2 separate regions of the Homo sapiens genome follow, and region 2 is linked to region 1. Evidence: fine-mapped expression QTL. A gene starts in region 1. The other region holds a variant in brackets. All regions are shown on one strand. Distances are between the middles of the regions. Region 1 holds the start of MLXIP (MLX interacting protein). Region 2 overlaps MLXIP (MLX interacting protein).

The links. PIP is the estimated chance that this variant, and not a neighbour inherited with it, causes the effect.
Region 2: its variant is fine-mapped to the expression of MLXIP in fibroblasts (GTEx, PIP 0.98).

Annotation. Positions count from the first base shown.
Region 1 is chr12:122,076,483-122,081,846 of GRCh38, reverse strand. It overlaps MLXIP (MLX interacting protein), which reads right to left and starts at 3,091. Exons shown (of 17, transcript NM_014938.6): 1 at 2,581-3,091. The coding sequence starts at 2,993. RefSeq lists enhancers at 472-521, 592-641, 2,509-2,748, 4,816-4,865 and silencers at 2,809-3,258, 3,269-3,548.
Region 2 is chr12:122,127,075-122,132,438 of GRCh38, reverse strand. It overlaps MLXIP (MLX interacting protein), which reads right to left. Exons shown (of 17, transcript NM_014938.6): 2 at 5,077-5,183; 3 at 4,471-4,556; 4 at 3,213-3,302; 5 at 2,810-2,851; 6 at 2,327-2,498; 7 at 1,506-1,595; 8 at 56-147. Among named protein-coding and RNA genes, the nearest start is that of IL31, 44 kb to the left of the region's middle. RefSeq lists enhancers at 1,753-2,952, 4,879-5,364. The variant T/C (reference allele first, on the strand shown) is at 3,387.

The sequences.
Region 1 (5,364 bases):
GGCCAGAAACAGTCACACAGAAGAGGAGACCCAGCTGGCCTTTCTCAGCTCGGGCAGGAGGGGAGGACCCAGACAGCCGGCAGGGAAGGCATGAACCCCACCAGGATGGAAGCCAGACAGGCTCTGAGGTTAAGTCTTCTTTCTGCCCTGCCCCCAATCCCTTTTTTTCTTTCTTTCTTTTTCTTTTTTAGAGATGGGGATCTTGCTACATTGCCCAGGCTGATCTTGAACTCCTGGGCTCAAGCAATCCCCCACCTCGGCCTCCCAAAGTGCTGGGACTACAGGCATGAGCCACCACGCCCCGCGTTGCCTCCGATCTCAACCTTCCTTCCCTGAAAGCCAGGTAGCAGTTCTCACTAGGAGAGCTGGGGTCAGAAACTCACCTTCCTCTAGTTTCTTTCTGTGCCACAGACTACAGCCCAGACAACTGGTTTTGAGTCATTTGTCTGTCATCCATACCAAAGTTCTACACTGCCAACTAAACTCAGCACTGGACAAACCAGCCTCACACAGACAGACAAAGGGCATCTTCATGAGAAATGACTGGACAGATCCCATCCGAGGGCCTGTGGTGGTAGACCTTAGGTGGCCGACCTTAGGCAGCAGGAGACCTTAGGCACAGGGAAAAGCAGCGAAAGTGAGAGAGCCAAGAGAGCAAGATAAGCTTCTTGCACCAAACTGATGGTGCATTTTGCAATCAAGAAAGTTAACTGAGCAACGGCCAGCTGCCAAAATATTTTTGAGAGAAATGAAAAAAAAAATGCCATTACTAAAATTATTTGGTGTTGTTTAATAAGCCTTTAGGTTATCCAAACAAGAGTGCAAAGGGGAGACTGATTTAGTTTTCATTTAGCAGAGCTTACTTAGGTGAGACCTTTCCAGTCCATGCCCCCCGTGACTCATCCATTCTCTCCCTGTATATGTAGAAGTTTATATTAAAATAAAGAAGAGGATTAAGTTTTCTTAATAAGATACATTCCAGTCTTTCACCTCGAGCTTTGTTTGAAAAGGCTCTCTCGAGGCATAGCATATGCTGCGATCCAGTCGGGTTTGATTCCAATGGAACTGCTCAAAATCAGAGACTGGAGGGCGCACAGGGCTGCAGCCTCAACACCATTTGTTTTTTAAAAAGCAGAACATCTTTACAGGCTCAGTGCCAGCTCAAACTGGCAAGACCAGAGAATCAGCAGAGACTGACCAATGTGCCGGGTAAGGGGGATGGGAGGAGGAGCTACGGGAACAGATCATCAGGGAAACCTTCAAGAGAGGAAATAGGGGTGTTTCAGGAACATAACAAAGAACAAGTTGACTAATCGTTTATTCCAGGGACCGCGGCGGTGAGGGGGGTGCCATCCAGGGCTAAGTATCTAATATTTTAACTTCAGGTAAAAGCATAACATTTAAACCTGGATATGCTTGGGGCTCACAGCTCTCTTAAAAAGGTGAGGTGAGAGGGGGCAAGATATTCCTGCTCTTTTATTACGCTGTTTATGGAGTCTCCTAGGAAACTTCTCCCGCGATGCCTCCAGAGCAGACCTAAGACAGCCCCCGCTAGTCCAGTTCCTAATGCAATAAGCTTAACTCAGCAGAGATCCCATCATGAGCTTTCTGCAGGGCCAAGCTGCTCAAGGCCGCTGCTGCCAGTCCAAAGAAGTTCTGTTGCGCAGACAAAAAAGTTACCTGCAGCAAATACCTAATATTCATAGTGGGAAAGGGAGAGAGAGTGAAAAAGCGCTTTAATCTTTGAGGGCCAGGCATTTTCTGTGACTTGGAAAAGAGGAATCTCTGCCCAGAGCCGAATCCACATGTCAGAACGGTGTCTGGGATGTCTGCCCTCAACAATGACATCTCCCTCATATAATGTTTCAGGACCGGCCAGAAAACCCTCCAACTTGCCAGAAGGACAGACTGCACCTCCAACAGCTGTGGCACCAAAAGTCTTCTTAGGAGGCACCCAAAGCCCTCCCGAGATGGGGGCGGGCCTCCCGATGAGGTTGTAAGGGGGCCAGCCTCCAGGTGCAGGGACACCTAACTCTGGCCAAGCACTGGAATAAGCAATTTACCTATCTCACTCCATCCCCACAACAGCCCCTTGGAGGCAGACACTACAGTCATTCCCCTTTTATAAAGGAGGAAACAGGCTCCGAGGTGTTACACAACCATTAAACAGCAGAGCCAGCCTCCAGTCACCCCGAACAGGTGGTCCTGACCGCTGCTGGATATGGGGGAAACACACAAAGCGTTTGGAGGAAGGAGTCGATAGAGTCGGGTAACACAAGATGCAGCCAGTGTTTATACCTCTTCCTCGTCCAACATCGGTGGTCCCAGGACACTGGAGGGGAGGGCCTGGATGGGGAACGTGAACCCGAAAGGACCCCGGCACTGCTGGCAGGGGAAGAGGCCAGGACCCCGGCTCCTCTGGCAACGCGGGGAACCCCAGATCCATAAACCCTCCCGAAGGAGGAAGACCCAAAGGGAATGCATGAAGCCACGGGGTTGCCAGGCGGCCCTTCCCTCCACGCTTGTTTTGTCAAACAAGGGCCTCCGGCCGGGGCCTCAGGGGGTCGCGGGGGTCCCTACCTGTAGGCCAAAGTCATGCACTCGAAGAGCTTGGTGAGCGAGGCGTCGATGGACAGGTGGCAGGAGCTAGTCTTGCCGAAGCTGTAGGTCTGGCACGTCTGTTTGTTGACCGTGTCGAAATCGTAGCCCTTCTTGGGCGGGTGCTCTCGGTGCGGCGACGACACCATGAAGTGGCCGCTGTGGATGATCTGCTGGCGGCGCGGAGGTTCCTCGCGGCCCGGCCCGGCCCGAGGCGGCGGTGGCGCGGCGCTCGCGTGGGCCCGGGCCGGGGTGGCCGCGCCGGAGGCGGGCGGCGGGGACGGCTCATCCGTGTCCGAGTCGTCGTCGTCCTCGGACACCTGGGGCTTGAGCAGCACCTGGCGGCCCCGGCTGCGAGGCCGGCGCGGGGAGCACATGAAGACGTCGGCGGCCATGAGAAGGGCTCGGCCGGGGGCATCCCCCGGAGCCCGGGGCAACGCGACAAGCGCGCGAGGCAGAGGGGCGCCGGCCCGGCCCGGCCCGCGCGCCGACTGTCCGCGAGCGCGCGGCGCGGCGGGAGGGGGAGGGCTCCGGCCCCGGCGTGACGTCACCGAGGCGTCTGGGCCAATCGGCTGCCCGCGTCGGCCTCTTAAAGGCGCAGGGGAACCTTTCCTTAGCTAGGCGGACCAAAAAAAAAAAAAAAGGGGAAGCGGAGGCCACGCCTCCCGGCCGTGCCCCTCGCCACCTCCTCCTCTCCCGGCGTCCGTGGGTGCTGAGGGACACGGTGGCCGGGCGGAGCGGCTCGCCGGTGTCGCGACCTGGGAGAGGCGTCGGCAGAGTGGGGCCGTGCTAGTCCCGCCCCCGCCCCGCTCCGCGCCCCGGGAGTCGCCCTGTGGCTTCGCCGCAGGCCCGGCCGGCTCCACGTGGTGGGTGCGGGTGGGGCTCCTCGGCCTCCAGGCCCTGCTTTTTCCCTGCCGGGCGGTACCGAGTCCTCGCAGCTCACGCCTGAGTTTGCCGGACGTGGTGGCTATTGTCCTCATTATTCTCATCGTATTGATGGGAACACTGGGTGGCTGAATACCGACAGGATTTTTCTCAGACCTGGAGTCCACAGAGCTGGGAACTTGCTTCCCCTGCGCGTCCCCAGCTCGGCGCAGCTGTTGAGTGGCAGCGCCCCTGAGCCCAGCGACCTCCAGACCCCAGCTCTTTTAACTTCAACTCAGCATGCTGTTGTTATTTTTTTAAAGTTTGACGGACGAGCCAGCCCCCGAAACAATTCTAAAAGGGGAGTATCTGAGCCAGAGTTTTCTTCTCTGTCAAATGGTGAACAATTCCGTTTCCTCAGAAACTTGGGACAGTTTAAAAATGGCTATAGTGGGGCGCGGTGGCTCATGCCTGTAATCCTAGCACTTTTGGAGGCCGAGGCGGGTGGATCACTTGAGGCCAGAAGTTCAAGACCAGCCAGGCCAACACGGTGAAACCCTGTCTCTACTAAAAATAACAAAAATTAGCCGGTCGTAGTGGTGCACCCCTGTAATCCCAGCTACTCGGGAGGCTGAGGCAGGAGAATCGCTTGAATCCGGGAGGTGGAGGTTGCAGTGAGCCGAGATTGCGCCATTGCACTCTAGCCTGGGCGACAGAGCGAGGCCCTGTCTCAAAAAGAAAAATAAATACAAATAAAAATGGCTATAAGTTGCTTAGCAGGCAGGCTGGCACAAAATGAGCGCTAAATAAATGTGCCACAGGTTGGAGGATTTGGATCAACCAGACCAGAGGTGCCTAGAAATTGCCAATAGTCCACCACTATTTGACCTGCAGAAACGGCAACTTCGCGTGGCACAACCTAACTGACAGACACCTCTAGAAAGCTGTCAAGGTTTCCGGGGCTCAAAGCCAGTCTGGGGTGGGGGTGGCAGGGCATCAGAAGAGCCAGTGAGGCCCATGAGCCAGGAACACCCATCCTAATCCTAGCAGGGCGTCCAGAGTCCACAGCCACTCCTGCACTCTGCTTTGTTTTATTGTTGTTTTGTTTTTTGAGACAGAGTCTTGCTCTGTCACCCAAGGCTGTAGCGCAGTGGTGCAATCACCATGTTGGCCAGGCCGGTCTGGAACTCCTGACCTCAAGTGAGGCCTGCCTTGGACTCCCAAAGTGCTGGGATGACAGGCATGAGCCACCGCGCTGGCTCTGCACTCGGCTTTGAAGCTGGTTTCAGTTCCAGATTTGAGTGGGGGGTGAGTCCCCTGCCCCACCCTCTTCCTGACAAAGGCCTCCTGAAGGGAACAGAGGGCTCTCACCAAAATGGCTCCATTAACTTATTTCCAAATGTCTGTATGGAAAAATGGGCTGGATGACTGGCAGTTTTCAGGCATGAGTTCTAGATTTCCCTCTTCAACCTACTACTGTTCCCAATGCTGGTTACAAGTGTTTAAAAGTCCATCCTTTGAGTTGCCTTCCTTTCTCTCAAGACTTGTCTCCTTGGTCCTTGGTAAGTTTACATGCCCAGCCACTTTTTTTTTTTTTTTTTTTTGAGACAGGATCTGGCTCTTTCACCTGGACTGGAGTGGAGTGGTGCCATCATGGCTCACAGCACCCTCAACCTCCAGGGCTCAGGTGATCCTCCCACCTCAACTTCCCAAGTAGCAGGACCACAGGTGCACACCACCGTGCCCTGCTAATTTTTGTACTTTTTATAGAGATGGGGTCTCGCCATGCTGCCCAGCCTGGTCTCGTCTCGAGTTCCTGACCTCAAGTGATCCTCCTGCCTCAGCCTCCCAAGGTGCTAGAATTACAGGTGTGAGCCACCATGCCCTGCTTTTTTGTCTTTG
Region 2 (5,364 bases), 51 kb before region 1:
GAGCAGCCCTGTGCCTGCCAGCCCCTTCCCCCACCCATCCCCCAGCTTCCTCTACCTGTGCAGGTGGGTTGTTGGGATCTGGTACAGGTGCTGAGGCAGATGCAGGTAGCATGGAGCCAAAAATGGAGCGGCTAGAAGAGAAGAGGTCTGAAAAACAACAGCAGGGGTCTTCTGAGCTCAGTGTGCCCAGCATTTGCTGGAATCAAGACTCAAACAGGGCCAGGCACGGTGGCTCATGCCTGTAATCCCAGCACTTTGGGAGGCCGAGGTAGGCAGATCATGAGGTCAAGAGATCAAGACCATCCTGGCTAACATGGTGAAACTCCATCTCTACTAAAAATACAAAAATTAGCTGGGTGTAGTGGCACATGCCTGTAGTCCCAGCTACTCAGGAGGCTGAGGCAGGAGAATGGCTTGAACCCAGGAGGCAGGGGTTGCAGTGAGCTAAGATCGCACCACTGCACTCCAGCCTGATGACAGAGCGAGATTCCCGTCTCAAAAAAAAAAAAAAAAAAAAAAAAAAAAAGGTGCCAACCACAACCACCATGCCTGGTTGGTGCCACCAGTGGTCCCAACTACACAGGAGGCTGAAGCGGAAGGATCGCTTAAGTCCAGGAGGGAGGTTGAGGGTGCAGTGAGCCGTGTTCTTGCCACTGCACTCCAGCGTGGGCTACAGAGCAAGGCTCTGTCTCAAAATAACAAAGACTAAAACAGGCTGGGTGTGATGGCTTACACCTGTAATCCCAGCACTTTGGGAAGCAGAGGCAGGAGGATCACCTGGGCAACATAGCAGACCCCCGTCTTTACAAAAAAATGAAGAAATGAACTGGGTGTGGTGGTGTGTGCCTGTAGTCCCAGGTACTCAGGAGGCTGAGGTGGGAGGATCGCTTGAGCCCAGGAGTTCAGGGCTGCAGTGAACCATGATTGAACCACTGCACTCTAGCCTGGGTGACAGTGCAAGACCCTGTCTCTAAAAAAAAAAAAAAAAAAAAAAAAAGACTCAAACAAATCAAGGACTAAACCCCTAAACCCCACATGGCCCAGGGGGATGCCATGGACAGAGGGTATTACCCTGAGACACCTTTTTTTCTGTAGAAAGGGGGCTCTGGTTGGAACCACACATGTTGGCAACTATCCTGGGCTCTGAAACACTCCCAGGCCTGACGTTTCTGCTGCTGTCACAATGGCAGGTGCTCAAGGACCCATCTAACTGCAGGGCCTTGGTAGGGAGCTGGCTGTGTCATCAGTGCCCTCTGCTGCTTCGAGGGAGAACTGCTTACAGTCACGGCTAAATCCAGAGCCAATTTCCTTGCTGAACAATGTCCCAGAAAAACTTCCCAGACCTTGCAGTTACTACAAAAAACAGTTCAGTTTAAAAAAAAATTCTTTGCTCGCCCCCTTGCCCATTCTACCAAGTCTCGCCTCTTAAAGGAAGGCAGCGATCTGCTCTGTGCTGGGCTGGGGGAGATGGAGGCAACCGTGCTCTCTCTGCCTCTGGTCCTCACCCTGGAAAGGCTCAAAGGTGTCCATGAAGTCCAGGTTAGGCTGCAAAGGAATCAGTCCCGGCTGGATCATGTCTGCATTTCCCAGATGTGCTGCAAGAATCACAGAGAGAGGAACCATTTTGTCTTCTCAGACAATGTTGCAGGAACGTAAAAAAGGCCTGGAACAGAACTTCCTGGCCCTGCTCACATCCCAGAGTCTTCCAAGGAGCTGGCTGGGATTTCTACCTTCTCAGGGTTTGTGGCCATTCCGCACCCTCAAAAGGCAGGAAAGTAAGTTTTTGCCAGGAAGGTAAAATTGAGTATCAGGGAATGGACACCCCAGGAAGCTGTAAAGAGCTCAAGAGAGAACAGAGACCTCCCCGAACACTGTTCTAATTTTCAATCTTTGGGCTCTTCCCTGAGAGGTTAACTGGAAGACTGAATGCCACCAAGGTGAGCGGTCACACCCGGGAGTGCTTCTGATTTTCTTTAGCATGAGTCACGGCCCGGCCGCCTCGGCTTAGGCACGGCACACGTACCCCGTGAAGAGAACGGTATCTGAAATGTGCCAATGACTCAGACTAGACCCTGCTGCTGTCCTCCCACCATGGCACTACGGGAATGGCAGCTGCCCAGTGGGCCCACTCTGCAGACCCCACCCACTCGGTACGTGCGGCCTGGATGTCAAATGAGGCCAGCCATCCTTCCCTTCCTTACTGCCTGCCCCCAACCGTGACGTGCAGCAGCTCAGAGATGGCCCTGAAGGAACCCTGGCCCAGAGGGGGCCTGGCAGAGAAGGAAGCGGCTGGCTGTTCAAAGCCCAAGGCCCTGGTTTGGGTTACCTATTTCCCGGGGATTGGGCCAGGCCACCGGCTGGTGTGAAGAAAGTGTGGAGAAGAGGGTGTCGCTGAATTCCGACATGAGCATGTCTGTGTCCAGCAGGGGATCCTCCTCCATGGGGACGGGGGTCTTCCATCCATCCCCGTGCTTGTGCCAATACAGCATGTCATCGTCCTAACACAACACCAACACAGGGGAGGAAGCATCAAAGAGTAACAGTGGGACGAAGAATTCCCACGCCTGTCACCTGGGGAAATTCGTCAAAGGGGTGCTCAGTGGAAGTGAGGCAGCAGGGTGGAGGCATTTGGAGAGCGGCTCCCTCCAGCCCACCCAGGAGAGAGAGCTGGACTGCTTCTTGAGCCATTCCTGAGACTCCAGGGAGGGCCCATGGCCTGCCGCCTTTTGCAGGGCTCCCTGGTGGGCCACCGAAGTCCCTGCTGTCTCATGTCAAAGTGGGGGTCCTCAGAGCTCCCAGGCTCACCCACCTGGACCAGGCTGGAGAGGTCCTCATCCTTGTGCTGCTGTAGCTGTGGGCAAAGGGACAGGACACGGCGGTCACCAATGGCCCTAGGAGGGCCCAAGGGCTCTAGAATATACAGAACTCTCAGGGAGGCAGGTAGGGGTCCTGCTCACACCATCCCCAGGCCGATGCCTGCACAAAGGAGACTTCCACCCAGTGCACAGATGGGGAAACTGAGAGCAAAGACAACCTGACCGAGGCAGGCCATTGCCCAGGCTAGTCTGGCACGCTGGGCCCCAGATTTACTGCTTGACGCTCCACGTTCAGGTGGGGCGGCTGTGGAGCCTACCGCCTCGGCCAGGGCCCTGAACCAGGGACTCTGCCCACTCCCTCCCTAGGCGGGCTGCCTGAACACTCCAGCCAGATACCCTTTTCTTGAAGTAGGTTCTCCACTTGTGATACTCCCGGATCACAATCTCGATGCGGCTCTTCCAGTACTTCCCTTCCGTGGTGATGGCCTAGGACAGGGACAGAGAGCAGAGTGAAGAGGGGGCTCTGCTTGATTAGCAAAGCTCAACTGGTGTACTGAGTATCCGGCACTA[T/C]AATCAGGCCTTAGGCAATCCAGCGGGAAACCCCACAGTGGCTACCACATCACTCAGAAAGTACGTCCCACTTCTTCCATGCTATAGCAGACCCTCTAGCTAACAATGCGCTGTCATTTCAAGACCTAAGGTAGCCAAAGGCCTTGGGGGCACGGTCCTGAGGCTCTGTCCAGGAGGACAGGGTGAGAGCAGAATGCTCCACAGAGGAAGAAGCAGGGGAACGCTGCAGCAATTCCCAAGCCCCCCCATAAATGCCCCTTCCCCACAGCCTCTGCCACATTCAAAGGGCAAAAATGAACAGCCAATTCCAGGAAGTTTCAGGTGGAATGTGCCCTCCAGGGGCCTCTCATCCAACCTTCGCGTGATGCCAGTGTGGATGCCTTGCATGACAGCCTTCGAGCTCCAGAGATAAGGAGCCCCAATGCCTGGGGTTGCCTCACTTTCTGATCTCAAGGCCCAAATCACCTCACCTACAAACACTGTGTGTGTGTCCTCGACAGCAAAGATGCTTTTCTGTTAAAAAGAACTGATTACAATATTGCCATACCCAACAAAATGATATCCCTTGATACTGTCTAATACCAGATTATACCTGTCTCAAAACTGTCTTTCATTAGCTTACCTTCTAAATTCCCCCTTTATCGTTAACAGTGAGACATGCCTAGACAAAATTAAAGCCACACAGAAGAGTATGCAGTGAAGAAAGCATCTCCCCCTCATCTGGCAGCCCTAATCCTACTCCCCAGAGGTTCCTGAAGTCTCTTAATAAAGACACTTCTATATATTCCTCTAGACACTTCCTGTGCATGTATAATCACACATAGACACACACTTTAAAAATTAACAGAAAGATATTAACCCCCTCAGTCCCTGGGCCAGTCCCTCTGAGAAGGGGGAGGCTCTGCAGCCTGGGGTTGCCAGAGGCCACCAGCTCCCAGGCCTGGCCCCCAGGGCATGGATGGCGCAGGGCAGGCGCTGCACTACCCTCGGCAGCCTCTCCTACAGGACCAGCCCGCGGTGAGCCACTCCCGGTGAGGTGCTGGTATGTTTCCACTCTCAGCCACCCTTGGTCACTGCCAAGTACCTCCGGCCGGCGGTGCTCGTCTACGTCCACAGAGCCGTCCAGGGGTGTCACAAAGTGGCACACAGGATTCTTGCGCTTCTCCAGATCTGAGCAGAGAGAGGGTGAGAGTCAGCACCATGATCCAGACCCCTGAGGGAGCCCCAGCCTGTCTGCTGCACCCCTCCCCTAGGGCAGACCACATTCCCAGGTACCCTTTCCTTCTCCTTCCCTAGGAAAAGGAGATTTCAGGGAAATAAAGGAGTCCAGGTGAAAGGAGAGGAATCTGTCAATAACGAACGCCTCAGTCAGAGAGGCAGTGTGGCTTCTCAGAGAAAGACCAGCCCAACACAAGCCTGCCCTAGCACACTCATCTCCCGGAGAAGCTACCGGATCCATGACACTCGGGCTGGAGAGAGAAGGCCCATGCCTGAGTCTTCCTAGACCTGCTCCCTGACTCTTCAGATGCCACCCCTCTGCTGGGCCTGATGGCTTGGGTTTCCTGTCTGCACAGACTGAACTTCTGTTAGAAACACCAGGTCCCAGGAGCAGACTCTGGTCCCTGGGTGCCCAGGCCTCCAGGCCGTGAAGTTCTGACCACCACCGGCGCCCAGGCTGGGCGGCACTTACACTGCATGTACCAGGCCCGCCAGATGGCATTATTGAGCCGGATCTTGTCTCTCCACTGTAGCTTCAGGCCCTTGAAATTCTTCCACTTTGGAGACACCAACTTCCCACTGAAAGGCAAGGCAAAGCGGGGAGACTCAGTGGTTACTCTGAAATTGAAGTGAAATTACAAAGTGCCACCCGATCATTCCAGGACCAAACTCTTGACTGATCCACCCCCAGCCATACACCCGGCTTCATGGAATTCAGGTCACTGGGGGATTTCTTCAGAGCCACACAGGGCAGGGCATG